Homo sapiens: one gene and its partners. The protein of the gene in region 2 interacts with the protein of the main gene of each other region in a pairwise test. Each region holds a gene or a part of one and is shown on either strand. Other genes may lie near its edges.

Region 1 (7,321 bases), about 28 Mb from region 2:
ACATTCACATGGAAATCAAAGTCAATATATGACAGATGATGAAATGAGCCTCTGAGAAGATAAGTGGGTTGTGGGGAAGGTAGGGGTGTCTCCCAAACCATTGCTGGAAGCACCAGGTGATGCATTCTGCTTTTAGCCCCCCAATTCATGGCTCTAGACGTCACTATCCTTTTGCTCACAAACATCCTTTTAGATAACTACCAGAAGTCCCCAAAGGGAGGAGCATGTCGGGCTACAATAAGCCCACTCCCCTGCTGCTCCTGGTGGAATCCTTGGTCCTTCTGAATTTGGCAGTGGGGTCACGGTTTCACACCCCATGCAACGGCAGCTCTCCTGGGAAAACTTTAAGGTGGGGACAGGGGTGACTGTGGATTTTCCCAATGCTTCTGGCTGGGTGCCCTGGCCACACCTAGGCATACCTGGTCACACCTGAGGATACCTGGGCACGCCTCAGGATATCTGGACACATGGCCAAACGAGAAAGCTTCAGTTTTCTCATCTGTAGGACAGAAGGTTGCAAAGGCTGGAATAACCTTTTTTTTTTTTTGAGATGGAGTTTCCCTCTTGTTGCCCAGGCTAGAGTGCAATGGAGCAATCTCGGCTCACTGCAACCTCCGCCTCCTGGGTTCAAGCAATTCTCCTGCCTCAGCCTCCTGAGTAGCTGGGATTACAGGCATGCGCCATTATTTCCAGCTAATTTTGTATTTTTAGTAGAGACAGAGTTTCTCCATGTTGGCCAGGCTGGTCTCGAACTCCCGACCTCAGGTGATCTGCCCGCCTTGGCCCCCCAAAGTGCTGGGATTACAGGCGTGAGTCACTGTGCCTGGAGAAGCCCTCTTTTTTAATTTAATTTTTTTATATAAAAATAATAAAGACAGGTTTTGTTATGTTGCCCAGGCAGGTCTCGAACGCCTGGGCTCAAGCAATCCACCCTTCTCAGCCTCCCAAAGTGCTGGGATTGTGCGCGTGAGGCGCTGCACCTGGCCCACAAGGAGCCTTCTTAATCCAACCTGGTTACTGAATCACACCTGAGCATACCTGGCGACACCTGAGCATACTTGGGCACATGTGAAGATACCTGGCACACTTGGCCAAATGGGACAGCCCCATCCCTTGGTCTTCCTGGCCTCAGTTTCCTCATCTGTAGGACAGAGGGTTGCAAAGGCCACAAAGACCCTTCTTAACCCAGCTTGGTCACCTGGCCACACCTGAGGTCGCCGGGTAGGTCTCTGTATTCCAATCATCTTAGATCTGCACCAGAGCCCACCCAGTGGCTGGGTGCAACCTGCACACTGGGGGTGCCCCTTAGTGCCTGTTGAGGTTCTGTGGGGAGTGAGGCCTGGAGGGTTCAATTCCTATGGGAGTGGGGATGCATCCCAATGGGGGCCAAAGTTCCAGATAGGTTGTGGCCCTGCAAGGTGCCAGGGTCCCAGTGAGATGTGGAGTGTGGGGTTCTGGCTCCCAGCAGGGATAGAGTTCCTGGCTAGGGTCAGGTGACTTGCTGGTGGAGATTCTCACTCCTGGACCTCGGCAGGGGCTGGGGGGTGCCCATCGGCACGTGTATGAGGGTGCAGACCTAGAGTGAAGGTGGAGGTCTGGGTCCTGGGGATGATAGGGTTGGTGATTTAGGGTCCCAGTGTTGCAGGAGAGGGGTCCCGATCTAGCCCCCAAGAGTGGGTTCTTGGATATTGCTCAAGAAGTAATTCAAGGTAAGTCATAAGAGTACAGGGAAGTTTTAGTTTATTAGAAACTATTCCATTACATGCTGGGTGTGGTGGCTCATACCTGTAATCCCAGCACTTTGGGCGGCCGAGGTGGGCAGATTACCTGAGGTCAGGAGTTTGAGACCAGCCAGGCCAACATGGTGAAATCCCATCTCTATTAAAAATACGAAAATTATTTGGGTGTGCTGGTGCATGCCTGTAATCCCAGCTACCAGGGAGGCTGAGAGAGGAGACTCTCTTGAATCTGGGAGGTGGAGGTTGCAGTGAGCTGAGGTTGCGCCACTGCACTCCAGCCTAGGCCACAGAGCCAGACTCTGTCTCAAAAAAAAAAAAAAAGAAAAAGAAAGAAAGAAAAAAAAAGAAACTGTTTTGTCATAGAGGTGTAACACCTTGTGTTTGTTTTAAAGCTTCCTTCTATAGGGGTCTGTCTTATCTATGTAAAAGCTAGGTTATGTCTGACGGCGTGACATTTATTCCTTAGTTGATTTAGAGAGAGCCATCCTTTGCATTTTCGCGCCCAAGCACGTCCATGCATGACTGTAATTATCTTTAACAGCATATGTGGTTACGCGATATGGCGACATCCAGACATTCCGCTGTCGTCTGTGTTTGTCCTTGGAGGCATTATTAAGTCATTTCTTCAGCCGTAAACATCTTATGACCATGGGCCGTGACCGGCAAGGAATGTGTCTTCCTGGTTTTTAAGATGGAGTTGATGATTAAAATGGTGTCACCCCAGCTCTCCCAGGCTCCTGTCTCCCAAACACAGCGGGTGTTAGGATCTGTGTGGAGTCCCGGATGCCAGGTCTGGGGTCCCCTGGGGGACCAGGTGTGGGACTGGGAGGGTTGTGGTGGGGTGAAGGTCTGAGTGTCTGGGTGGGGGGTTCCATGAAGAATTCCAGTAGGAGTCTGCTGGGGGGTCCATGTGGGATTTCAGCCTTGGCCCTGGTAAGGGTCTGGGTGGGGGTTCTGTGCTGGTCTGGGGTTCCCTGAGGGAGCCCAGGTAACTCTGTGGTTGTCTGGGGTTCCCAACCAAGGTCTGAGTAGGGGTCTGCTGTCCCAGTAGGGATCAGGGTGGGGAGGGGGCTCGTGGTCCCTGAAGTAGTCTGGAGTTCTCTGCAGGGGCCGGGAAGGGGGTCTGTGATCCCTGCAGGGTTGTTGGGGGCAGGGAAGTGGAGGGGTAGGTTTGGTGGGTGGTGTCTGTGGCCTGGCAGGAATTGGGGTGGGGTCTGTGGTCTCAGTAGGAACTGGGGTGTGGGGTCCGTGCTTGGGGCAGGTTCTGTGGTGTCAGCAGGAACTGGGGTGTGGGGTCCGTGCTTGGGGCAGGTTCTGTGGTGTCAGTACGAATTAGGGTGTGGGGTCCATGGTCCTTACAGCTGTTCAGAGTCCTCTGTGGGAGTCCTGGTCCATAATCCTGGCATGGCTCTGGGTGGTTGTCTGGGGTTCCCTATGGGGTCCAAGTCCTTGTGGTCCCTGCTGAGGTCTGCGTGGGGTTACATGATTCTGGCTAAGATGGGGAGGGTGGTTCCCGTGGTGGTCCTGGTCCCCTGCAGGGTCTGGGTAGGGGATCTGTGATCCCATGGTGGGGGTCCTGGCTGGGGCTTGAATGGGGTTCCATGGTCTTGGCTGGAGTGTGGGGTCTTGGAGAGGCAGTCCAGCTGGGGTCTGTAGTCCTGGGGGGCGTCCTGGCAGGGGTCTGTGGTCTTGTGGGGTGCTGGCTGGGGCCTGTGGTCCGGGGGGTGGTTGTGATGGAGGTGGAGGTCCTAGAAGGGGGCCCCAGTAGGGGTCTGTGATCCTGGAGAGGGGTCCTGGTGGTGGGGGTCCCAGTGGAGGTCTGTGGTCCTGGGGGGCCCTGGGAGGATCTGTGGTACTGGGGAGTCCTGGTGGAGGTCTGTAGTCCTGGTGGGGTTCTTGGTGGGGTGTCTGGGCGTGCCCCAGTGGGGGGGCCTGTGGTCTTGGGGGTCCCAGCAGGGGTCTGGGGTCCTGGGGGGTGTTCTTGGGAGGAGTCTATGGATCTGACTTGGGTGCTGGCTGGGGTCTGTAGTCCTGGGGGCGTCCTGGCTGGGGCTGTTGGTCTTGTGGTGGTGGGGATCCCTGCTGGGGTCTGCAGTCCTGCCGGGAGGGGGAAGGGTCCCTGCTGGGGTCTGTGGTCCTGGAGGAGGTGTGGAGGGTCCCTGCTGGGGTCTGTGGTCCTGGGGGGGATTCCTGGCTGGGGTCTGTGGTCCTGGCTGGGGGTGTGTGTGGGGGGTCCCTGCTGGGGTCTGTGGTCCTGAAGGGGGGGTCCTGACTGGGGTCAGTGGTCCTGGGGGCGTCCTGGCTGGGGTCTGTGGTCCTGGGGGGGGGGGTCCTGGCTGAAGTCTATGGTCCTTGCAGGGGGGGGTTCCTGGCTGGAGTCTGTGGTCCTGGGGGGGGTGTCCTGGCTGGGGTCGGTTGTCCGCTCGGGGTCCCCAGTCCTGCAGGCGGTGCGGGATCCCAGAGGGCCCGGGCGGGGTCTGGGGTTGGGGGTTCCCCGCAGGCCGGGGCGGTTCGGGGCGGGCAGGGGGCGGTCCGGGGCGCGCGCGTTTCCGCCGTCCGTCCGGGCGGGCGGGCGCAGAGTCCCGCGGGCGGCGCGGAAGCGGCGGCGGCGCGGCCGGGGCAGCCATGTCGCCATTGTCTGCGGCGCGGGCGGCCCTGCGGGTCTACGCGGTAGGCGCCGCGGTGATCCTGGCGCAGCTGCTGCGGCGCTGCCGCGGGGGCTTCCTGGAGCCAGGTCAGCGGGGCGGGGCAGGGGTCAGGGCTCCGGGGACCCGGGTGGGCGCGGGCTGGCTCGGGGGCGGGGGCGCGGGGGCTCCGCGTGACCTTGGCGAGGCGGTGGCGCTCCCGGAAGTGGGGCTGGGCGGGGGTCGAGGTGTGGCCGGGGGTGGGGGGGGGGCGGCGTGCGCGCTGGGACCTCCCCGCCCCGCGCTTTCCGTCCCCGCCGGCTCTTCTGCGCGCCTGGCCCGGCCCGACCCGGCCCGACCCTTCCCTCCCCGCGCGTGTGGCCTCCCCGCCTGTCCCGGGTCGGGCTCCAACCAAGCAGCCCCCGTGCAGCCGCCCCCCCGCGCACCCTGACACCTCCGGGCCATGGCCGGGGACCCGGGGGCTCGCACGCCCCGCGCCCAAGACATCAGGCGGCTCTGCCTGCCGCCTGCGGTCGGCCAGTGACCGCGCGCCCCCGCCAGGCCCCGGAGGGGAGGAGCGGGCGTCCCAGGGACCTCGACCCCTACCCACCCCAGGGTAAGTGAGGATGGGCCCTTCTCCGGAGGACGTCTCCAGAGGGGGCCCAGAGGCGGCTTCTCGGGCACTGGGGAGCCACGGAGGTCTGGTGGGGAGGGCAGGCCCGTTAAGTGGCAACTTTGTTTCCTTGGCCTTTGTAAACATCTCTGAGTCACAGATCTCCAACTTTGCAGGACTCGTTCACTGTCTGAACTCATCAGTGATGACCGCCACTGTGTTTTGTGTATGCAGATAACTTCTGTTCCTAGATTTGCAGGTTCAGAATTTATTATTATTATTATTTTTTGTAATAGGAAGTAGAGATGAAGTCTTGCTCTGTTGCCGAGGCTACTCTCGAACTCCTGGGCTCAAGCAGTCCTCCTGCCTCAGCCTCCCAAAGTGCTGGCATTACAGGCACCAGCTACTGCATCCGACTAATGTTTTAAAGTTTTGTAGACGGGGTCTTGCTATGTTGCTCAGGCTGGTCTCGAACTCCTGGGCTCAAGCGATCTTCCTTCCTTTGCCTCCCAAACTGTTGGGATTACAGGTGTGAGCCACCACACCTGTCTAATGTTTTAATTTTTTTGTGTAGCAATAGGGTCTTGCTACGTTGCCCAGGCTGGTCTGAAACTCATGGGCCGAAGCAATCCTCCTACCTGGGTCCCCCAAAGTGCTGGGTTTACAGGCGTGAGCCACCACGCCTGGCTAATGTTTTAAATTTTTTGTAGAGATGGCATCTCACCATGTTGCCCAGGCTGGTCTTGAACCCCTGGCCTGCAGCAATCCTCCAGTCTGGGCCTCCCAAACTGCTGGGATTACAGACAGAGCGCCACTGTGCCCAGCCCATATTCTCAATTTAAACCTAGAAACCTGTAAACAATTATTTGTGAACTGGAATAAAGGGAATGTTAATTCCATGTTAGGTTAAATGATACTTTGTTTCAAAAATAACAGTTTTCCAAAACAGAGCGTTCAGAGGGTCAGTGTGGTGGGGGTGGGGGTGTACGTTGCCCTGAATGTCTTAAATGTCCAGCCTAAGAAGAGAGCTGTTATTTCTGCCTCTGTAGACAGTTTCATGGCATGTCAGGAGGCCTCTGGAAGACACTACTGCACGCCTCTGGGAGACTGGGAGTCAGCCAGGCGAAGCGCTTGGGTGCCTTATTGTGAAATGACTTTTGACTTCCACTCTGCACCCACTGAAGGAATCCCAGGGGTCCCAGCGCCACCCTTTGAGAAGCGTGCCTGGAGTGGATGTTTTAAAATGAGCCTCTCTCTCCCGCCTCTAGCCAGAGAAAAAGAGCTTTGAGTTTTCTGTGAGCTAAGCTTTTCTTTTTCTGCCAAACTGGCCTTCAGTATTTTTTTTTAAACCCACTTAGCATAATTACAAATGCATAGAAGAAGGAGAGTAAAGGGAACTGTAGTCAGGCTTTCGGAGGGCAGGAGAGCATGTTTGTTTGAAGTAAGTAATCAGTTGCAAGGTGAACGGTTTACAGCTGCTGAACAATTGTGTGGAGTCTCGCAGAAGATTATGTTTATCCGGGCAGTTTTGCTTACAGAAAGGTCCCCTTAAACCTCCTTAAGGGCCTGTGTGGGCCCTGGCAGAAGAGGCCGGGGTTCCTGCAGCAGCTCACCAAAATGCTGGCCTTTGAAAAACTTGCTCTTTGTGCATTAGAAAAAGGGCTGGAATCTTTTTTTTTTTTTTTTTTCCCATTTACTGATTAAACAACAACAGAAGGTTGTTAAAGAGGACGAGCTTCTGGTGAAGTCACGTGTCTGCCAAGGGAATCTGTACCCGGGTGTGTATCGAAACAGAATGGCCTTCTCTAAAGATTAACTTAAGTGGCTTGCCCTCATCGAGCCCCTTCCTATGTATGGATTAAAAATAATTTTCGATACCAGTGGAGGAATGCTGTTGTCCTTGGTCTGCTGGTGGCCAGCTTCCTAAACGGCATTTTTTATTTGCTTCTCTCTGGTAGGCCTTCGCTGTTGGTGAGGAAACATTGAACTTTGTCCAGGGCATTTGAGCTAAGCTGTTTGAATAACCAAGAGGGCCAATTTCCCCACTGCAGATTGGAAGCAAGGGCAGTTTTTTCTTAGAACTTCCAAATGGAGCGTGTTCTTCTTAGGTATCGTACAAAGGAAATGCCTGGGTTACACCTTCCACATGAGTTGACTTACATGGTATGAGAAGGAAGAAATTGTGGCTGGAATCCACTCCTAAATGGTGTCTTCTTACAGTTCATCATGGAAAAACAAGATAATTACAAATTAATCATAGATGTTGGTCATGCCTTTACAGAGGGGGTTTAGAAGCAAATTGAGAATTCCCATAAGAGGGTCTGTCTCTGTGTTCTTAAGACTAT
Region 2 (6,840 bases):
AAATCATGAAATAAAAAAAAAAAGGTGAGATGTGTTCAATTCTTGATTTGCCTTATTCCTTTTAGCCTTTCTTTTTAAAAAATTAAAAGATATATAGCTGGATTTGTTTGGCTTTTTCAAAAATGTAAGATAAATTAAATTGTACTCATTTAGTACTCTTGTTCATTGGCTCTTTTATTCCCTAAATATTAATCAATTCTCTGCTCTTTGGAAGGCTCAATGTTAGTACTGGAGATGAAGGAGATGAGAAGAAATAAAAAAAGAAAGTTTTACCCATTGTCCAAAGAATTTTAGTCGTTAGGAGCAGCTATCATACAAATACATGGTGAAAGTATCTCTCAGATCCAAAGGACAAGGTTAAAAAAGATGGAGGCAGGTAAGAAAGTGGGAAGGGTTCCAGATGAGAGTGTGTAGTGTAAATGCTCTGAGAAAAAGAAAGCTAGGGCCTTGGGAAACTGCAGGTCCCTCACTGGGAGGTAATTTTAAGTGAGGCTGCATGCTGGACTGGAGGAGGCTGTGGGAGTGGTGAGCAGGGCAAGACCCTCAGATGGTAAGCTTCAGAGTTGAGAGACTAAGCCTATAATGGAAAAGTGCTCTTAACTTTGGAGAAAACTGGAAAGAAGCTCCACCAGGGGCAGCACTGGAAAGTGACTATGCTCTTGTCCCAGTGCAGATGAACACAGTGCAGAAACTAGCTGCTTTATATACATTGTATCCAGTGAGCTTCGGAGAAATAAGGATGATACTCCCTTAAGAAGAAATGATAAGAAGCCGCTGGGTACTCTGCACTGGGCTGGAAGAGTTAAGAGTCAATTTCATTAAAAGGAGCATTCAAATTAGGCTATCATGTACATAATTTGGCAAGCTCTAGGCAAGTTCTAGGTGTTTGGTGCTTGTTAAATTAATGAAAATAAAGGTGATTTAGATGGAAGTGACACTGGGAGGGAAGGAAGTTGTTAGTCCTTGACGCAAATGCGTTGTGTTGCACCTAACTGGAGAAGTCTACCTCACATTGAATAATTTATCATTTAATGGGGAAATATTACTTGATTTTTCGTGCTAATCTGCATTTTGGCTTATTGGGTTTTCTTTCTTCTAGAATGCTGCATATTCTCTGACATCTGTTGGATTAAGAAAAAGCAATCACAGTGGGATGGGTGGTATCATCAAGTTAATCATAGGTAATAGCTGCCATGTTGAAACCTCAATATGGGCCAAGTATTGTGCCAGGTGCTTTACATACATTAACCACATTTCACCAATTCCACAAGGAAGGGGCTTATCAAACCTATTTCACAGATGCAGAGCCTGAGGCTCACAGAGTTTAGTAATGTGCCTGAGTTCACATAGCTGGTAAGTGGCAGGGCTGAAACCAGACCCCCAGTCTGGATTAATCTACATCCCACACTGTTCCAGTCTTCCCATTCTGAGGCTAACCTCATGTTGCTTCATTCATTTTTTCTCTCTATTTTTGAAAAATGTATCTCAGGCAATAAAAAGAAGGACTCTGTGCCCATACTACTGGGTCAAATATATTCCCAGACCAATATGAATGCCAAAATAAATGAGAGGCATAAATAAAAAAAAGAAAAATAGTACCTGGTGTCAATACGTTCATCTACACAAGCAATATCAGGTAATCTCAAAAGATCAGAAGCTCCCAAAATCATCCTGGACAGTCTCTTCCCTGTAGAAAATAAATGTGTCAGAACAGAATTTTCGTGAGAATCTAAGTCTAGCAAGATGGAAAAAATCAGCATGTTTTTTTCTCTGACAGCCCACTACCTGTCCTGGAGCTTCTGCCTTGTGCTTCAGCTTCCCTATCTCACATCACTCCCGGAACACGGCTCCTTCTCTGCAAGGTTTGCAGTAGAAAAACTGGTCATGTTTGCAGGGATGTGACATTTCCCAGAAAGCCTTTAATGAAAGATGATCCCCAGTTCAGAGGACATGGGAAACCAATATCTCAGAATATATGAGGTTATGCATAGACTGACTCTCATCTGCTCTCAGACCTAGAGAGCTCGAGACAGAACTGTCAGGCTGAGCATCCACTCATTTAATCTTCAGACCTCTCATGGACATGGCCTAAGAAGGTCAACTTCATGTCAGTAGATGCAGTTCAGCCTCTGATAGATATGAACGTGAGGACCCTGAATGAAGATGATGGAAGGACCCAGCCAGAACTGTGGGGTCCCAAAAAGTCCAGCTCAGGCTGTCAGCCCTTCAAAGTCCAGAACAGCCCTGGCTAAATGTAGCTCACCACAACTTCCAGTTCAGAGGTCGGCAGAGGGTGAGTACCTTGATCTGATGGGAACAGCCTCAGGTCAGTGGAGGATGGAGTGCCCCAAGACTGGCCAGGTGTCATGGTGAGGACCCTGAAGAGAAATAAGAGAACTGTTATAGGACCAACGAGTTTCTGTGTCAGCTGCAAAGTAACAGACCCACTATAATAAAACAGCAAAGTTTGCAGCAAAGAGTTTAATGATTGCAGGGTGCCAAGTGAGGAGATGAGAAGAGACTCTCAAATTCATCTCCCCAAGGAGTTCTGGGCTGGGATTTGCAAGGAGATCATGGAGGGCGAGGGGCTGGAGAACTGAGGTTGTTGATTCGTTGGGGTAAAGGGGATGAAATCATCAGAATGTGGAAACTGCGTTTTTTTTTTTTTAGTCAGCTCCTGTGGGGTCTTTTGGACCAGCTGATGTCAGTAGGGTCCTTTAGAGCAGCTGGCATCAGTGGGGTCCTTCAGACCAGCTGAGTCATTAGAATCATCAGTATGCAGGACCTTAAGGAATATCTCAAAGAAAAAAAGTTTCATTATGTTAAAATTGTTATCTATAGAGCAATTAAGGGCAACTATAATCTAGTAACAGGATCTACATGATTCTGGGATAATAGGCACCAAACTACTATGAGGAAGCAGGTCAGAGAGCAGCTGACTTCATGATTAATGCTGAATGTTCTGCAAGCTTGGCGTATCTTCATTTATCTCCCTTCCCTCTTCCCTGATTAATTTTATACAGTTCATAGGGGCAGTTTCAAAACCACCCACCCCAGAACAGAGGAGCCCACAAATTCCACCAATGCTGTCACCCTTGGGGAGCCCAGAAGAGAATTATGAGGTGGAGAAATCCCATCAATATGCCTCGTGTGTTTCACAGAGGTGAAGACCTTGGACTAGTGGAAATGGCCCTAGGTCAAAGAGACAAAACCCACGCCCTAACAGGAATCAAGGTGAGGATCCTAAGTGTTACGAGGGGGCTCTCCCCCTTGCAACACCAGCAGAGGGGGCCAAACAGAGCCCCTCGCCATTGTTAGCACCGAGAGGCCCCAAAATAAGTATCTCTGAATCCCCTTCATTCCACCTGTATAGTCTCGGGGAAGGAAGGGCCTTTGTCTGAAGAGGGTGACCCCAGTTGTGCAGAGAGAGAGTCTTGGCTTTCACGGGAATCAAGGTGAGGACTCTGAGGGCGGATGAGAAGACCTCTCCCCAAAAAAGGCACATTCACAGAGCCCTGCCGCTGCTGTCAGGCCTGTGAGGCCCAGGCAGGGGTGGCCTGTTTGGCACGCTTAGATTTCCACAGTGGGGGCTGAGGGAGGTGGGGGTATTGTTTGGAGGCTGGCGGATTTGGGTCAGCACGCATATTCGTCCCAGGCTGCTAGATACTGAGGTGAGGACCCCTAGTGGAGACGAAGGGACCAGCAACGCTAGAACAGTGACGTCCGGTAGCGTCCAGCCGTCAGCCCTCAGACGCCACGGGCTGCCGGATGTGAGTCATCCTGACTTCCGCTTTGAAAAAAAAGACCCGAGCGGATGTGGCTCATCCTGACTTCCGCTTTGGAGGCGAGGACCCGAGCGAGTGTAGGGGGTGCGGCGTCTGGTCAGCCAGGGGTGAATTCTCAGGACTGGTCGGCAGTCAAGGTGAGGACCCTGAGTGTAAACTGAAGAGACCACCCCCACCTGTAACAAAGAGGGCCCCACTAAGTCCCGCTTCTGCATTTGGTCCTGAGAGGCTCCGGTAAAGCCGTCCGGCAATGTTCCACCTGGAAAGTTCCAGGGCAGGGGAAGGGTGGGGGGAGGGGCAGTCGCGGGGGAAGGAGGTTTGGACGCAGGGAATAGGCCTCATTCTGCACGTAGGGTGGGTGTAGGCCCTAACTGAAATCAATTTGAGGGCCCTAAATGTGGACTGAAGAGAACATCTCCTACCCTTAACAAAGGTGGCCTCACTAAGTCTCGTCCCTGAAGACGGCTCTGGGAGGCCCCAGCAAAGCTGTGCCTGGAAAGTCTCAGGGAGGGGAGGGCCTTGAACCTAGGAAGCAGCCCTGCTTCTGCTCATATGGCATCAACCTAAAACCTAACTGGGGTTAAGGTGAGGACTCTGAGTATTAATGAGCGGACCTCTACCCAAAAGAGGAGTCATGCTGGGCAGTTCCCAGGCCGAGGTGACACTGGGTTTTAGATGGTCCCAGGCTGACATGACAAATGCAGAGCAACCTGACTTCCTCTCCCGGGACTAAAGAAGTTGAGGGCTACATCCAAGACCCACATCTGCTGCCAGCAATAGGAAGGTCAGGGCAAAGCTAGCAAGCTGAGATGCTCTCTAGTTTCCTCTGGAGGTGGTCTCAGGGAGGTGAGGGTCTTGGTGTAATGGGGTAGGTCTAATGCGACAGAGAGGCCCAGTCTCTAACAGGAAGCAAGGATGTGACACTGAGTGATGAGGAGGGGACTCCAACCAGAAAGAAGTGCCATATAGAGCCCACTCTTGTTGTCAGACCAGGGAGACCTGAGCATGGCATGTTGAGTTGTACTCACTCTCCCCAAGACATCTCAGAGAAGTGAACGACCCCATTAAAGAGGGCAGCCTGGCCGGGCGCGGTGGCTCACGCCTGTAATCCCAGCACTTTGGGAGGCCGAGACAGGCGGATCACGAGGTCAGGAGATCGAGACCATCCTGGCTAACACGGTGAAACCCTGTCTCTACTAAAAATACCAAAAAAAAAATTAGCGGGGAGCGGTGGCGGGCGCCTGTAATCCCAGCTACTCGGGAGGCTGAGGCAGGAGAATGGTGTGAACCTGGGAGGCGGAGTTTGCAGTGAGCCGAGATAGAGCCACTGCAGTCCGGCCTAGGCGAAAGGGCGAGACTCCGTCTCTTAAAAAAAAAAAAAAAAAAGGCAGCTTGAGGTCAGCAGAGGGAGGGTTTCCAGGTTGTGCCAGATGTTATGATAAGAACTCTGACGACTGCAGGGGGCTCCCACCCCATATTAGTGGGAGCCACACAATCCTCAGTACTGTCAGCTCTGAGAGACCCCAGGCAGAAATGTGAAACAGAGGTGCCCATCAGTTCCCACTCAAGGGTAACAGGGAAATGAGAGTTTTAATCTGAGGGTGGTGATCACTTGTCAACAGAAGTAATGTACTAATTGGTCCATTCTGGCATTACTATAAATACCCAAGACTGGGTAATTTACAAAGAAAAGAGGTTTAATTGGCTCACAGTTCTGCAGGCTGTACAGGAAGCATGATGCTGGCATTTGCTCAGCTTCTGGGAGCAGGGCTCAGGAAATTTACAATCATGGCAGAAGGGGAAGGGGAAGCAGACATGTTACATGGCCAGAGCAGGATCAAGAGGCCAGGGGAGGCGCTACACACTTTTAAATGACCAGATCTCATGAGAAGTCATCGTTAAGGGGAATGGTGCTAAACCATTCATGAAAAACCTGCCCTCATGATCCAGTCATCTCCCACCAGGCTCCACCTCCAACATTGAGGATTACAGTTAGACATGAGATTTGGTGAGGATACAGATCCAAACCATATCAGGGAAGAATCTTAGACCCTCTCATGAGTCAAATTTAGAGGCTGAGTTGGGACTGTATGTGGGACCATCTATCACAGGGCAGTTATCTGCCTGCCACAGCTTTTACTTTTGGGAAGACCACATTTGGTCAGATAAGGCCACCCTCACTTCCTCCTATGGGTTCTCAGGGATGTTCACTCTTACCATGACGACATAGGCCTCAGTTCAATAAAAAGGAGAGCTCCTCTACCAGGAGTCAAATTGAGGAATCTGAGAATTCAAGGAACCACTGAACCCTTAACAGTGGAGACATCAAAGAATCCAGTCCAACCCTTTATTTTCAGCCCTAGAAAGCTCAGGAAAGGGTTATCAGGTTTAGTGTCCCCCTCTCTTTTTTATATAAGATCTAAGAGAGGTGAGATTCTTAGTCTGACGGTGTAGCCACCACTCAGCAGAAGGGGGCTGGTGCCAAGCCCTACATGAAGCCAAGGTGGGGACCTTGAATGAGAGCTGAAGACTCTAATGATTCCAAGACATCAAAGACCCCACTGAACTCTCAGCACTGGGTGTCACTTCTCAGGGTGGTGGTTGAGGCACCCCTTCAATTTCTTCTCATGAGTCCCAGGGTGCTTTGAGGTGTCAAATTCACAGTAGCGGAAGGGAGTGGCTCAGGCCCTGCCAAGACTTCATATGATAATCCTAAAAGTTAACTGATAAAACCCCAAACACCAGAAGACAGGAGGCCGCACTGCCAGTACCTCCTGTCACCATAGTAAGCCCAAGGAAGGGCTGACAGAATGCAGTCTGAAACTCACTGTAGGGGTTCTGTGGTTCTTCTCTGGTGTCTCAGGGGAAAGGATAACCAGGACGACAGGAGCCTTGTGGCTTTCTAGAACAGTGCCTTCAGGGAAACTTGCAAAGGCAGGCTTCCTTCAGTAAAGCTAAGATGGGGTCTTCCAGCTGAAGGTGCTCACAGATCTCATTCTCCCATCTCCAGGTATACTAACCATCTATTCTTCTGCCCACATTTCTTGGTTTACCC
Region 3 (7,024 bases), on a different chromosome or scaffold from region 2:
CGAGGCCTCTGTAGGGCCTGGGGAGGCACCTGCGGGGCCGCCCTCACAGGAACCTCCATCTCTCAGGTAAGCACCAGCCAGGCAGTCTTTTGGGTAGAGGGAGGTAAGCTTGGGATTTGCTCCCAACTCCTTCAGAATCCACTCTGTGAAGCCAGTTCTGGTGAGTCTGGGCTGGCCTATCAGTGCCGAGGTCCCATTAAAAGTCCTTAGTTTATGTATGTATGTATGTTTATGTGTTTGTTTTTTGAGACAGTGTCTCTGTCACCAAGGCTGGAGTGCAGTAGTGTGATTACAGCTCACTGTAGTCTTGACCTCCCAGGTTCAAGCAATCCTCCCGCCTCATCCTCCCAAGTACCCAGGACTACAGGCACATACTACCACACCCGGCTAGTTTTTGTATTTTTTTTGTAGAGACGGGGTTTCACCATGTTGGGCAGGCTGGTCTTGAACTCTGGGCTCAAGTGATCCACCTGCGTCAGCCTCCCAAAGTGCTGGGATTACAGGCGTGAGCCACCGCGCCTGGCCAAAAGTCCATAATTTATTTATTTTTTTGAAACAAGGTCTTGCTCTATCACCCAGGCTGGAGTACAGTGGTGGAATCAGGGCTCACTGCAGCCTCAAACTCCTGGGCTCAAATGAGCCTCCCACCTCAGCCCCCTGAGTAGCTGGGATCACTGATTTGAGCCACCATGCCCAGCTAATTTTTTTTTTTTTAGATGGAATTTTGCTCTTGTCGCCAAAGCTGGAGTGCAGTGGCGTGGTCTTGGCTCACTGCAACCTCTGCCTCCTGGGTTCAAGTGATTCTCCTGCCTCAGCCTGCCGAGTAGCTGTGATTACAAGTGCACATCACCACGCCCAGCTAATTTTTGTAATTTTAGTAGAGACGCGGTTTTGCCATGTTGGCGAGGCTGGTCTCAAACTCCTGACCTCAGGTGATTCACCCGCCTCGGCCTCCCAGAGTGCTGGGATTACAGGCATAAGCCACCGCACCCGGCCGCTAATTTTTTTTTTTTTTAAGTATATGGTCTTGTTGTGTTGCCCAGACTGGTCTTGAACCTCTGGGCCCTCAGTCCTTCCACTTTGGCCTCCCAAAGTGCTAGGATTACAAGTGTGAGCCACTGTGCCTGGACCCTAATTTAAGAGATGCTAGTGCCTACGTGGGTGAGGGGATTGACTTTGAAAATAAGGATGTATGAGCTCGGTGGATTTGTGTGGTGACTGTGAGCAGCTCCTCCTGCATCTACTTGTGAAGATGGGGCAGAAAACTGAATTTCTTTCCTATACCCATAGTGACCAGATGGCGAAAGCAGATTGACAGCCATAGATAGCAATAACGATGATGGTGGGAATATTAATAGTTCCCATATTGAGCACTTACTCTGTGCCCGGCCCCGCACTATGCATTTCATTTACATTACCTCCTTTGCAGTGTTTCCCCCTCGTTAGGCATTTTAGAGCTTCCTTTCTGATTTTTACCCCAAAGTGGTACAATACTACACCACCTATATTATTAATTGACTGAAATTTCAGTTGTTTTTTGTTTTTGAGATGGAGTCTCCCTCTGTCACCCAGGCTGGAGTGCAGTGGCGTGATCTCAGCTCATTGCAACCTCTGCCTCCCGGGTTCAAGTGATTTTCCTGCCTCAGCCTCCTGAGTAGCTGGGATTACAGGTGTGCGGCACCACACCTGGCTAATTTTTGCATTTTTGGTAGAGATGGGGTTTCACCATGTTGGCCAGGCTGGTCTCAAACTCCTGACCTCAAGTGATCCACCCGCCTCTCAAAAGTGCTGGGATTACAGGCACGAGCCACTGCGCCCAACCTGAAATTTTACTGTAAATGAATGCCTTTTTTTTTTTTTAACATTGCCTTATCAAAGAACGATATGGGATGGCTGTGGGGACCGCAGAGTAGGGGGACTGAGGGCACTGACTCCATTCTCAGCTCTGATGCTTTGCAGCTGTGTAACACTGTGCATCCCACTTCATCTTCCTGAGCCTTGGTTTTTCTCATCTGTAAAATGAGTGCAGTAAGAGTACCCCCCACCTAGGGCCTCACATTTGTAAAGTGCTCAACTGTGTCTACAGTGGAAGAATATTTGGTAAATATTGTCTCTTTCTTTTGAGATAGGGTCTCGCTCTGTTGCCCATGCTGGAGTGTAGTGGCGTGATCTTGGCTCACTGCAACCTCGACCCGCCAGTCTCAATTGATCTGCCTACTTCAGCCTCCTGAGTAGCTGGGACTACATACATTCACCACCATGCCTGGCTAATTTTTGTATTTTTTTGTAGACATGAGGTTTCAGCAGGTTGCCCAGGCTGGTCTCAAACTCCTGACCTCAGGTGATCTGCCCGCCTCAGCCTCCCAAAGTGCTAGGATTACAGGTGTGAGCCACCGAGCCTGGACTAATATTGGCTCTTACTTGTTAGCGTTTTGTGTGTGTGTGTGTGTGTGTGTAGATAAACACACACACATTCATTTATTTTTTAGAGATAAGGTTTTACTCTCTCGTTCAGGTTGGAGTGCAGTGACACAATCATAGCTCACTGCAGCCTGGGATTCCTGGGCTTAAGCAGTCCTCCTGCTTCAGCCTCCTGAGTAGCTGGGACTACAGGTATACACCACCACGCCCCGCTTATTTTTTTATTTTTTCATAGAGAGATGGAGTCTCACTATGTTGCCCAGGCTGCAATGCGGTGGTGCAATCAAAGCACAGTACAACCTTGATAACTAGCTGTATATTTTTAAGATGCCTTATATGTAACCCTTCTAATTTAAAAATTCAATTTAAAATAAGAAATTTGTTACTGTGTCATCTAGAACCAGAATTTGGCTACTCTGGAGGCTGAGGTGGGAGGATCACTTGAGCCCAGGAGTTCTGGGCTGTTGTGCACTATGCTGATGGAGTGTCCTGCACTAAGTTTTGCTTAATATTGTGACCTCCTGGGACTTGGGGGACCACCAGGTTGCCTAAGGAAGTGTGAACTGACCCAGGTTGGAAACAGCAGGTCAAAACTCCTGTGCTGACCAGTTGGCTCATGCCTGTGAATAGCCACTGCACTCCCGCCTGGGCAACATAGCTAGACTCCATCTCTTAAAGGGTCCCAGCACTTTGGGAGGCCACGGTGGGTGGATCACCTTAGGTCAGGAATTCGAGACCATCCTGGCCAACATGGTGAAACCCCGTCTCTACTAAAAACACAAAAATTAGGCCGGGCATGGTGGCTCACATCTGTAATCCCAGCACTTTGGGAGGCCGAGGTGGGCGGATCACAAGGTCAGGAGTTCAAGACCAGCCTGGCCAACATGGTGAAACCCTGTCTCTACTAAAAATACAAAAGTTAACTGGGCATGGTGGCATGTGCCTGTAATCCCAGCTACTTGGGAGGCTGAGGCAGAAGAATTGCTTGAACCAGGGAGTCAGAGGTTATAGTGAGCTGAGATCGTGTGACTGCACTCCAGCCTGGCAACAGAGCGAGACTCCATCTCAGGAAAAACAAACAAACAAAACATAAAAATTAGCTGGGCATGGTGGCAGGCGCCTGTAATCCTAGCTACTTGGGAGGCTGAGGCAGGAGAATCGCTTGAACCCACAAGGCAGAGGTTGCAGTGAGCTGAGATGACACCATTGCATTCCAGCCTGGGCGACGAGTGAAACTCTGTCTCAAGAAAAAAAGAAAAAGAAAGAAGGGGCTGGGTACAGTGGCTCATGCCTGTAATCTCAAGACTTAAGGTGGCTACGCCGGGCGCGGTGGCTCATGCCTGTAATCCCAGCACTTGGGAGGCCAAGGCGGGCGGATCACGAGGTCAGGAGATCGAGACCATCCTGACTAACACAGTGAAACCCCGTCTCTACTAAAAATCCAAAAAATTAGCTGGGCGTGGTGGCAGGCGCCTGTAGTCCCAGCTACTCAGGAGGCTGAGGCAGGAGAATGGCGTGAACCCGGGAGGTGGAGCTTGCAATGAGCCGAGATCGCGCCACTGCACTCCAGCCTGGGTGACAAAGCGAGACTCTGTCTCAAAAAAAAAAAAAAAAAGACTTGGGGAGGCTGAGGCAGGTGGATCACTTGAGGCCTGGAGTTTGAGACCAGCCTGGCCAACATGATGAAACCCCATCTTTACTAAAAATACAAAAATTAGCAGGGCGTGGTGGAGCACGTCTGTAGTCCAGCTTACTTGGGAGGCTGAGGCATGAGAATCGCTTGAACATGGGAGGCAGAGGTTGCAGTGGGCTGAGGTCACGCCACTGCGCTGCAGCATGGGTGACAGAATGAGACTCTGTCTAAAAAAAAAAAAAAAAAATTACAAGCAAAAAGGGCCACCAGGCACAGTGGCTCATGTCTGTAATCCCAACACTTTGGGAGGTGGAGACGGGATGATCACTTGAAGCCAGGCGTTCAAGACCAACCTGGGCAAAATAGTGCGACTCCCGTCTCTGCTGAAAATTTAAAAATTAGCCAGGTGTGGTGGTGTACACCGGTAGTTCCAGCTGCTGGACAGGGTGAGGAGGAGAATTGCTTGAGCCCAGGAGTTGAAAGCTGCAGTAAGCCACAGTAGCACCACTACATTCCAGCCTAGGCCACAGAGCCAGACCCCGTCTCAAAAAAAAACCAAAAAAAAAAACCCAAAAAAAAACCGGCATGTGTGTGTCATCACTGTGAATATTACCAAGTTGCCTCCGTGGCAGTTTTTACCAGCTCCCCGTAGCCATGGCTAACAGTGCCTGTTTCCTCCCTACTGTGCCAGCATTGTGTTTTATCGCACTTTGTAATGGCCTCGAATCTTGGGTTTGTAACCACAGTTCCATACCTCCGAGTCCTCAGGGAGGCCACTGGGACCTCTCTGAGGAAAGAGCCAGCCTGGCGGCCCCCCATAGACACTGAGAGGTGCCAGATTCCAGCAGTTCTCCTCCCTCCCCAGGTCCCTCGCCGGCTCCCTCGGGGCCTCCACTGCAGCGCAGCTGCCCATAGCTCTGAACAGTCCCTGGTTCCCAGCCCACCGGAACCCCGGCAGAGGCCCACCAAGGCTCTGGTGCCCTTTGAGGACCTGTTTGGGCAGGCGCCTGGTGGGGAACGGGACAAGGCGAGCTTCCTGCAGACGGTGCAGAAATTTGCGGAGCACAGCGTGCGTAAGCGGGGCCACATTGACTTCATCTACCTGGCCCTGCGCAAGATGCGGGAGTATGGTGTCGAGCGGGACCTGGCTGTGTACAACCAGCTGCTCAACATCTTCCCCAAGGAGGTCTTCCGGCCTCGCAACATCATCCAGCGCATCTTCGTCCACTACCCTCGGCAGCAGGAGTGTGGGATTGCTGTCCTGGAGCAGATGGAGAACCACGGTGAGGCCAGGAGGCTGGCGCAGGGTGGGGAGTGGGCTACACTGATAGCTGGCAGCACCTCTCCTGAGTCTCAGCCCCTCCTTCCTCCATGGCTCCGTCTCTGTCTCTCTCGCTCTTCTCCCTCTCCGAATCCCTCTTTTCATCACTCATCTCTCTTTCTTGCCTCCCTCTGACCTCCCCTCCCCTCCCCCCTCCCTCCCTCTCCTCCCCCCACTCTCCTCTCTTCTCCTCTCCTCCCTGCCTCTCTCTCCCTCCCTTCCTTCCTCTCTTTCTCTCTTTCTTTTAGAAATGGGGTCTCACTATGTTGCCCAGGCTGCTCTCAAACTCCTGGACTCAAGTGATCCTCTCCCCTTGGCCTCCCAATGTGCTGGGATTACAGGCATGAGCCTTTTTCTTTCTAATTCTCTCTGATTCTTTTCTCCCTGTCTGTGATCAATTCCCTCACTTCACTGTTTTCTTTTCTCCTCTTCCCTTCCCTCCTCCCCCTCCATCTCTGAGGTTCTGCCTGCATCTGCCCAGCACAGGTGTGATGCCCAACAAGGAGACGGAGTTCCTGCTGATTCAGATCTTTGGACGCAAAAGCTACCCCATGCTCAAGTTGGTGCGCCTGAAGCTGTGGTTCCCTCGATTCATGAACGTCAACCCCTTCCCAGTGCCCCGGGACCTGCCCCAGGACCCTGTGGAGCTGGCCATGTTTGGCCTGCGGCACATGGAGCCTGACCTTAGTGCCAGGGTCACCATCTACCAGGTATCCGCCCTTGTCTACAGCGTCAGCTGCCACCCCAGGCCAGGCTCCCGCCATTCCTCCCCTGGGCTCCCCTTCTCTCACTCTAGTGATTGTGGTGAATCAAGTTCTTTTTTGAGACAGGGTCTTGCTCTGTTGCCCAGGCTGGAGTGTGGTGGCACTATCTCGGCTCACTGCAGCCTCTGCCTCCCAGGCTCAAGCGATCTTTCCACCTCAGCCTCCTGAGTAGCTGGGACTCCAGTCACACACCACTATGCCTGGCTAATTAAAAAAACTGTTTTTTTTTTTCAGAGACAGGGTCTCACTATATTGCCCAGGCTGGCCTTGAACTCCTGGGCTCAAGCAATCCTCCTGCCTCGGCCTCCCAAAGTGCTGGGATTACAGGCATGAGGCACTGTGCCTGGCCGTGAATTGAGTTCTGATTCTCTGGCTGAGTCCCCTGGTAGGTTCCCATGGTCCTTACTGCTAGCACAGCTTGAGTGACCTCTGCTTCAGTCCGTTCAGGCTGCTCTAACAAAATCTCTTAGCTTGGGTCATTGATGAACAACAAAAATTTATTGCTCACAGTTCTAGAGGCTGGGAAGTCCAAGATCAAGGTGCCACCAGATCTAGGTCTGGTGAGGGTTTGCTCTCTGCTTCAAAGATGACACCTTGCTGTGTCCTCACATAATATAAGGGGCAAACAAGCCCCTCAGACCTCTTCATATTTTTTTTGAGACAAGGTCTGGCTCTGTTGCCCAGGCTGGAGCGCAGTAGCACTATCTTGGCTCACGGCAAATTCCACCTCCCAGGCTGAAGCCATCCTTTCACCTCAGCCTCCCAAGTAGCTGGGACTACAGTCGTACACCACCACGCCCGGCTAATTTTTGTATTTCTTGTAGAAATGGGGTTCCACCATGTTGCCCAGGCTGGTCTCAAACTCGTGAGCTCAAGCGATCCACC
Region 4 (7,024 bases), on a different chromosome or scaffold from region 2:
ACCGAGGCAGAGCTGCCCCCTCTGCACCCTCTCGAGCAGAGGTTCCCAGCCTGGATGATCCTGCACCCACAGAGGGCCCTGGGCAATGTCTGGAGACATCTGTGGTTGTCACAGCCTGGGCGGGGGAGTGCTCCTGGCATGGAGAGGGCGGAGGCCAGGACACTCGGCTCCCTGCAGTGCCCAGGTGGCCCCCAACCTCCCTCTCGCCCCTTCCCCCAGGGACACCTGTGAACCGCATCCCCATCATGGCCAAACAGGTCCTTGACCTGTTCATGCTGTACGTGCTGGTGACGGAGAAGGGCGGCCTCGTGGAGGTCATCAACAAGAAGCTGTGGCGTGAGATCACCAAGGGCCTCAACCTGCCCACGTCCATCACCAGTGCAGCCTTCACCCTGCGGACCCAGTGAGTGGCGGACGGTTGTGCCGAGGTCGGGCCAGGGCACTCTGAGCAGCCAGTGCAAGGGGCCTGCAGAAGAGGGAGGGGGTGGTGGGCAGCTGCAGAGGAGGGGGCAGTGGGCAGCCGCAAAGGGCACAGGGCCACACCGTGCGTCCAGGGCCCGAGAGCGTCAAGTAGGGGTGCGAGGACCACACAGTCTCTGGGGTTGTGCAATCAGGGGCCATTGCGAGGAACAGCATTGAGATGGAGGGAATGGGCAAAGGCCCAGCAGCTCTGGGGGCTGCTGAGCAAGTCCAAGGGAAGAACCAGGGATGGTGGTGCCACAGTGGGGTTTACTTTGTACTGAAGGCCAAAGAGAGCCGTAGGGGTGACCCGGGTGCCATCCTCTTCCCTCGTCCCACCCACAGATACATGAAGTACCTGTACCCCTACGAGTGTGAGAAGCGGGGCCTCAGTAACCCCAATGAGCTCCAGGCAGCCATAGACAGCAACCGACGGGAGGGCCGGCGCCAGAGCTTTGGTGGCTCCCTCTTTGCCTACTCGCCAGGCGGGGCACACGGCATGCTCTCCTCACCCAAGCTACCCGTGTCCTCCCTGGGCCTGGCCGCAAGCACCAATGGCAGCTCCATCACCCCCGCCCCTAAGATCAAGAAAGGTAAGGGCCTGTATGGGGCCTGGGGCGTGTTCCCAACTGAGCTTCAGCCTGGCTGTCTGACCTTGGGGGATACCTCTTCCCCTCTCTGGGTAACCAGGATGAAAAACCCTATAGTTGGCATGGAAAAGGGCTTCCAATCTACCAGTCCTCTGCCTATGGCAGACATTACCAATCCATCACCATTTTCTAATTCCACACAGGTGGCAGGCAGACATTGCTAATCAATCTGTGTTTCCAGTCCTGTGGCCAAGGCAGACATTACTAATTGATCACTGTTTTTCCAGTCTACACTGAGGCAGGCATCATCAGTTGATCAGTTTTCCCTCCCACTGAGCCTCTGAATCCTCCATAACACAGAGGTACCAACAGCACACACAGCAGTGTCACCTCAGTTTGCCTGTCTGAGTTACCATTTCTCATCTGGGCAACATAGTGAGACCCCATCTCAAAAAAAAAAAAAAAAATTAGCTGGGCGTGGCAACGTGCACCTGTGGTCCCAGCTACCCAGGAAGCTGAGGTGGTCAGATGGGTTGAGCCCAGGAGGTCGAGGCTGTGGTGAACTGAGATTACACCACTGCACTACAGCCTGAGCAACAGTAGTGAGACCCAGTCTAAAAAAAATTTTTTTAGGCCAGGCACAGTGGCTCACGCCTGTAGTCCCAGCACTTTGGGAGGCTGAGGCAGGCGGATCGCTTGAGGTCAGAAGTTTGAGACCAGCCTAATCAATATGGTGAAACCCTGTCTCTACTAAAAATACAAAAATTAGCCGGGTGTGGTGGCACACACCTGTAGTCCCAGCTACTTGGGAGGCTGAGGCAGGAGAATCGCTTGAACCCAGGTGGCAGAGGTTGCGGTGAGCCAAGATCACGTCACTGCATTCCAGCCTCAGCGACAGAGTGAGACTCCGTGTCAAAAAAAAAAAAAAAAAAAATTAGCTTAGTGTGGTGGTGGGCGCCTGTAATCCCAGCTACTCAGGAGACTGAGGCAGAAGAATCACCTGAGCCTGAGAGGCAGAGGTTGCAGTGAGCTGGGATCGCGCCACTGCCCTCCAGCCTAAGCAACAGAGCGAGACTCTGTCTCAAAGCAAAAAAAAAAAAGGCTGGGCGCGGTGGCTCACGCCTGTAATCCCAGCACTTTGGGAGGCCGAGGCGGGCGGATCACCTGAGGTCAGGAGTTCAAGACCAGCCTGGCCAACATGAAGAAACCCCGTCTCTACTAAAAATACAAAATTAGCCAGGCGTGGTGGCGGGTGCCTGTTTCCCAGCTACTAGGGAGGCTAAGGCAGGAGAATCACTTGAACCCGGGAGGCAGAGGTTGCGGTGAGCTGAGATCGCACCATTGCACTCCAGCCTGGGCAACAAGAGTGAAACTCCGTCTCAAAAAAAAAAAAAAAAAGAAAAGAAAAGAAAAAAGAAGGTGCATGTTCCTGCCTTGAGTGGAAGGCAGGGCCCAGCCCCTCCTGGCCACCAATTCCCCTTTTTTCCTACCTAGAGGAGGACTCAGCCATCCCCATCACAGTCCCTGGCCGCCTGCCTGTGTCCCTGGCGGGCCACCCTGTGGTGGCAGCCCAGGCAGCAGCTGTGCAAGCAGCAGCCGCCCAAGCAGCTGTGGCCGCACAGGCAGCTGCCCTGGAACAGCTGCGGGAGAAGCTGGAGTCTGCAGAGCCTCCGGAGAAGAAGATGGCCCTGGTGGCCGATGAGCAGCAACGGCTGATGCAACGTGCACTCCAGCAGAACTTCCTGGCCATGGCGGCCCAGCTGCCCATGAGCATTCGGATCAACAGCCAAGGTACTGCCCTCGTGCCCAGACCCGCTGTGCTTCCTGCGTGTGTCACACAGTGAGGGCCTTGGAGCCTACATATGTAAAGAGTGCCAACAAATCAATAAGAAAAAAAAAGCCGGGTGCAGTGGCTGACATCTGTAATCCCAGCACTTTGGGAGACCGAGGTGGGTGGATCACTTGAGGTCAGGAGTTCGAGATCAGCCTGGGCAACATGGTGAAACTCCATCTCTACTAAAAATACAACAAATTAGCCGGGCGTGGCAGCGCACCCCTGTAGTCCCAGCTACTTGGGAGGCTGAGGCAGGAGAATCACATGAACTGGGAGATGGAGGTTGCAGTGACCCGAGATAACGCCACTGCACTCCAGCCTGGGCAACAATAGCAAAACTCCATCTCAAAAAATAAAAAATAATAAAGTAAACTGGCTGGGCACCGTGGCTCATGCCTATAATCCCAGCACTTTGGGAGGCTGAAATGGGAGGATTGCTTGAGCCCAGGAATTTGAGATCAGCCTGAGCAACACAGTGAGATGCCATCTCTACAAAAGTTAGCTGGGCGTGGTGACACGCTCCTGTAGCCCCAGCTACTCGGGAGGCTGAGATGGGAGGATCACTTGAGCCCAGGAAGTCGAGGCTGCAGTGAGCCATGATTGCACCACTGCATTCCAGCCTGGGTGACAGAGCAAGACCTGGTCTCAAAAACAAGGTAAAAAAAAACAAAGTGGAGTATGGACAAATACACTTATTCAACAAATAAATATTGAGCACCTACTGTGTGCACTGGTGACAGCATGAATGTGACAGACACCGTCTACACCTTGTAAAGCTAAAATCTAGTTGGCGAGACAGACAGAAAACAGAACATGTCACAGGTGTCTTTATGATCAGAAATGGCAGTTTTGGTCGGGCGCGGTGGCCCACGCCTGTAATCCCAGCACTTTGGGAGGCCGAGGCGGGCAGATCACCTGAGGCCAGGACTTCAAGACCAGCCTGGCCAACATGGTGAAACCCCGTCTCTACTAAAAATACAAAAATTAGCCGGGTGTGCTGGTGTGTACCCATAGTCCCAGCTACTCAGGAGGCTGAGGCAGGAGAATTGCTTGAACCCTGGAGGTGGAGGTTGCAGTGAGCCGAGATCGCACCACTGCACTCCAGCCTGGGTGACAGAGTGAGACTCCGTCTCAAAAAAAAAAAAAAAGAAAGAAACTCATTTGTTCGGCTGGGCACAGTGGCTCATGCCTATAATCCCAGCACTTTGGGAGGCCGAGGCGGGTGGATCACGAGGTCAAGAGATCGAGACCATCCTGGCCAACATGGTGAAACCCCATCTCTACTAAAAATACAAAAAATTAGCCAGGCGTGGTGGCGGGCGCCTGTAGTCCCAGCTACTGGGAGGCTGAGGCAGGAGAATGGCGTGAACCCAGGAGGCAGAGCTTGCAGTGAGCTGAGATCGCGCCACTGCACTCCAGCCTGGGCAACAGAGCAAGACTCTGTCTCAAAAAAAAAAAGAAAAAAAGAAACTAATTTGTTCTTCTTCCCACAGCCTCCGAAAGCCGCCAGGACTCTGCTGTGAACCTGACGGGCACCAACGGCAGCAACAGCATCAGCATGTCGGTGGAGATCAACGGCATCATGTACACAGGTAGGACCCCTGAGGCCACGCCCTGCCTGGACCTCGCCTCTCCCGCCGCCGTGAACTCAGGACCCTGAGTTGCGCCTGGTCCCACCTGCTTGAACCTAGGTGTGCGGGCGAGCAGGGCACGGCCAGGGGCTTTGCAGGACAAACAGTCAAGACTGATGGAGAGGATACCATCGTTCACCCGGTACCACGCTCAGCCCAGAGGGGGTCGTCCACAGATACATATTCAGTGTGACGTTGGATGGTTCACATTCCTAGTTTTTTGTTTTAATGAGACGGAGTCTTGCACAGACATGCACCAGCACACCTGGTTAATTTTTAAATTTTTTGTTGCTCTTTAAATTTTAAATTGCTTTGTTGCTCAGACCGGTCTTGAACTCTGGGCTCACGCAATCTTCCTGCCTCGGCGTCCCAAAGTGCTGGGATTACAGGCGTGAGCCACCGCACCCAGCCAATCCCAGCATTTTCGGAGGCTGAGGAGCAAAGAATGTATAAGCCCAGGGGTTAGAGACTTTCAGGCTGCAGCAAGCTGTGATGACGCCACTGCACTCCAGCCTGGGCCACAGACCGAGACCCTGTCTCTTGAAAAAAAATTTAATGAATGTATTTTTTATTTTTTTTAATTTGTAATTTGTAATTTTTGTGGGTACATAGTAGGTATATATATTTATGGGTTTTATGAGATGTTTTATACTGGCATCCAATGCCTAATAATCACATCAGGGTAAATGAGGTATCCAAAAAATTGAATCTAGGCTGGGTGCAGTGGCTCATGGCTATAGTTCCAGCACTTCGGGAGGTTAACACGGGAGGATCACTTGAGCCCAGGAGTTCAAGACCAGTCTGGGCAACATAGTGAGACCCCATCTCTCCTAAAAATATAAAAATCAGCAGGGCGTGGTGGCAGGCGCCCATAGTCCCAGCTACTCGGGAGGCTGAGTAGGGAGGATCACTTGAGCCCAGGAGGTGGAGGTTGCAGTGAGTCAAGATCACACCATTGCACTCCAGCCTGGGTGAAAGAGTGAGATCCCGTCCTTCTCTCTCTCTATATATCTATATATAGATATATCGATAGATATAGCTGTAGCTATACATAGATATATATAGATTAGATATAGATTTATATGTATCTATAAATACATATATACTTTTATATCTATATCTACATAGATATATATATATATAGTTGTTTTTTTTTTCTTTTGAGAGGGAGTCTTCCCTCTGTCACCCAGGCTGGAGTGCAGTGGCACGATCTTGACTCACTGCAACCTGTGCCTCCTGGGTTCGAGCGATTCTCCTGCCTCAGCCTCCCCAAGTAGCTGGGACTACAGGCGTGTGTCACCACACCCAGCTAATTTTTTTTTGTATTTTTAGTAGAGATGAGGTTTCACCATGTTGGCCAGGCTGGTCTTGGACTCTTGACCTCAGGTGATCCGCCTGCCTCGGCCTCCCAAAGTGCTGGGATTACAGGCATGAACCACCGCGCCCACCCTATATATACATATTTTTTTAAATAAAATGAATTAAAAAGTTGCCGGGCACAGTAGGTCACACCTGTAATCCCAGCAGTTTGGGAGGCTGATGTGGGTGGGTCACAAGGTCAGGAGTTCAAGACCAGCCTGATCAACATGGTGAAACCCCATCTTCCCTAAAAATACAAGAATTAGCGAGGTGTGCTGGTGTGTGCCTATAATCCCAGCTGCTTAGGAGGCTGAGGCAGGAGAATTGCTTGAACCCGGGAGGCGAAGGTTGCAGTGAGCCGAGATCGCGCCACCGCACTCCAGCCTGTGCAATGGAGCAAGACTTCGTCTCAGAGGAAGAAAAAAAAAAGAATTAAAAAATTTAATTAAAAAAGTGGAGTCAGTGCCAGGGGCAGTGGCCCACGCCTGTAATCCCAACACTTTGGGAGGCTAAGGAGAGAGGTTTGCTTGAGGCCAGCCTGGGCAACACAGAAGACCCCATCTCTACAAAAGAACATAAGTAAATGAATAGTTTTTCTTTTTTTTTTTTTTTTTTTTTTTTTTTGAGACAGAGTCTCACTCTGTTGCCCAGGCTGGAGTGCAATGGCATGATCTCAGCTCCTGCAACCTCCGCCTCCTGAGTAGCTGGGATTACAGGTGCATGCCACCAGGCCCGGCTAATTTTTGTATTTTTAGATGATACGGGGTTTCACCATGTTGGTCAGGCTGGTCTCGAACTCCTGACTTCGTGATCTGCTGGTCTTGGCCTCCCAAAGTGCTGGGATTACAGGCATTAGCCACCACACCCGGCGGTAAATGAATAGTTTTTCTTAAAGTGGAGTCAGGCCGATGGTTCATAGTGGCCACCAGGTGGCGCTGTCGACACAGAGCAGCCTTGTTGCAGGCCCCCGCCCGGCTGTGGTCAGAGGCTGAGCTGAAGGTCAGTGGTGTCCTCACAGGTCCACAAATGGATTTTTGAGGGGTCCGTGCCCTCCGGAAATCAGATGTAAAACGTGTACATTCATATTGAATCTTACAGGGGAGAAGGCCAACTGTGTGCTAGGGGTCTCGCAACCCCACATCAACGAACCA

The links.
Region 1: the proteins of MAGEB2 (region 2) and ZBED1 interact in binary tests that used the Homo sapiens proteins (3 or more experiments, as listed by UniProt).
Region 3: the proteins of MAGEB2 (region 2) and ECSIT interact in binary tests that used the Homo sapiens proteins (3 or more experiments, as listed by UniProt).
Region 4: the proteins of MAGEB2 (region 2) and ARID3A interact in binary tests that used the Homo sapiens proteins (3 or more experiments, as listed by UniProt).

Annotation. Positions count from the first base shown.
Region 1 is NC_000023.11:2,497,969-2,505,289, reverse strand, and holds the start of ZBED1 (E3 SUMO-protein ligase ZBED1), read left to right. Parts: upstream 1-4,313; 5' UTR 4,314-4,364; coding exon of another isoform or gene 4,365-4,473; intron 4,474-4,664; exon of another isoform or gene 4,665-4,979; intron 4,980-7,321. Other genes in the region: DHRSX (polyprenol dehydrogenase), read left to right, coding at 4,365-4,473.
Region 2 is NC_000023.11:30,211,734-30,218,573, forward strand, and holds the start of MAGEB2 (melanoma-associated antigen B2), read left to right. Parts: upstream 1-3,829; 5' UTR 3,830-3,922; intron 3,923-6,795; exon of another isoform or gene 6,796-6,840. UniProt on the Homo sapiens protein: May enhance ubiquitin ligase activity of RING-type zinc finger-containing E3 ubiquitin-protein ligases. Proposed to act through recruitment and/or stabilization of the Ubl-conjugating enzyme (E2) at the E3:substrate complex.
Region 3 is NC_000019.10:11,512,117-11,519,140, reverse strand, and holds part of ECSIT (evolutionarily conserved signaling intermediate in Toll pathway, mitochondrial isoform 1 precursor), read left to right. Parts: coding exon 1-66; intron 67-4,919; coding exon 4,920-5,337; intron 5,338-5,861; coding exon 5,862-6,085; intron 6,086-7,024.
Region 4 is NC_000019.10:964,029-971,052, forward strand, and holds part of ARID3A (AT-rich interactive domain-containing protein 3A), read left to right. Parts: intron 1-219; coding exon 220-403; intron 404-804; coding exon 805-1,052; intron 1,053-2,543; coding exon 2,544-2,840; intron 2,841-4,376; coding exon 4,377-4,475; intron 4,476-7,024. UniProt on the Homo sapiens protein: Transcription factor which may be involved in the control of cell cycle progression by the RB1/E2F1 pathway and in B-cell differentiation.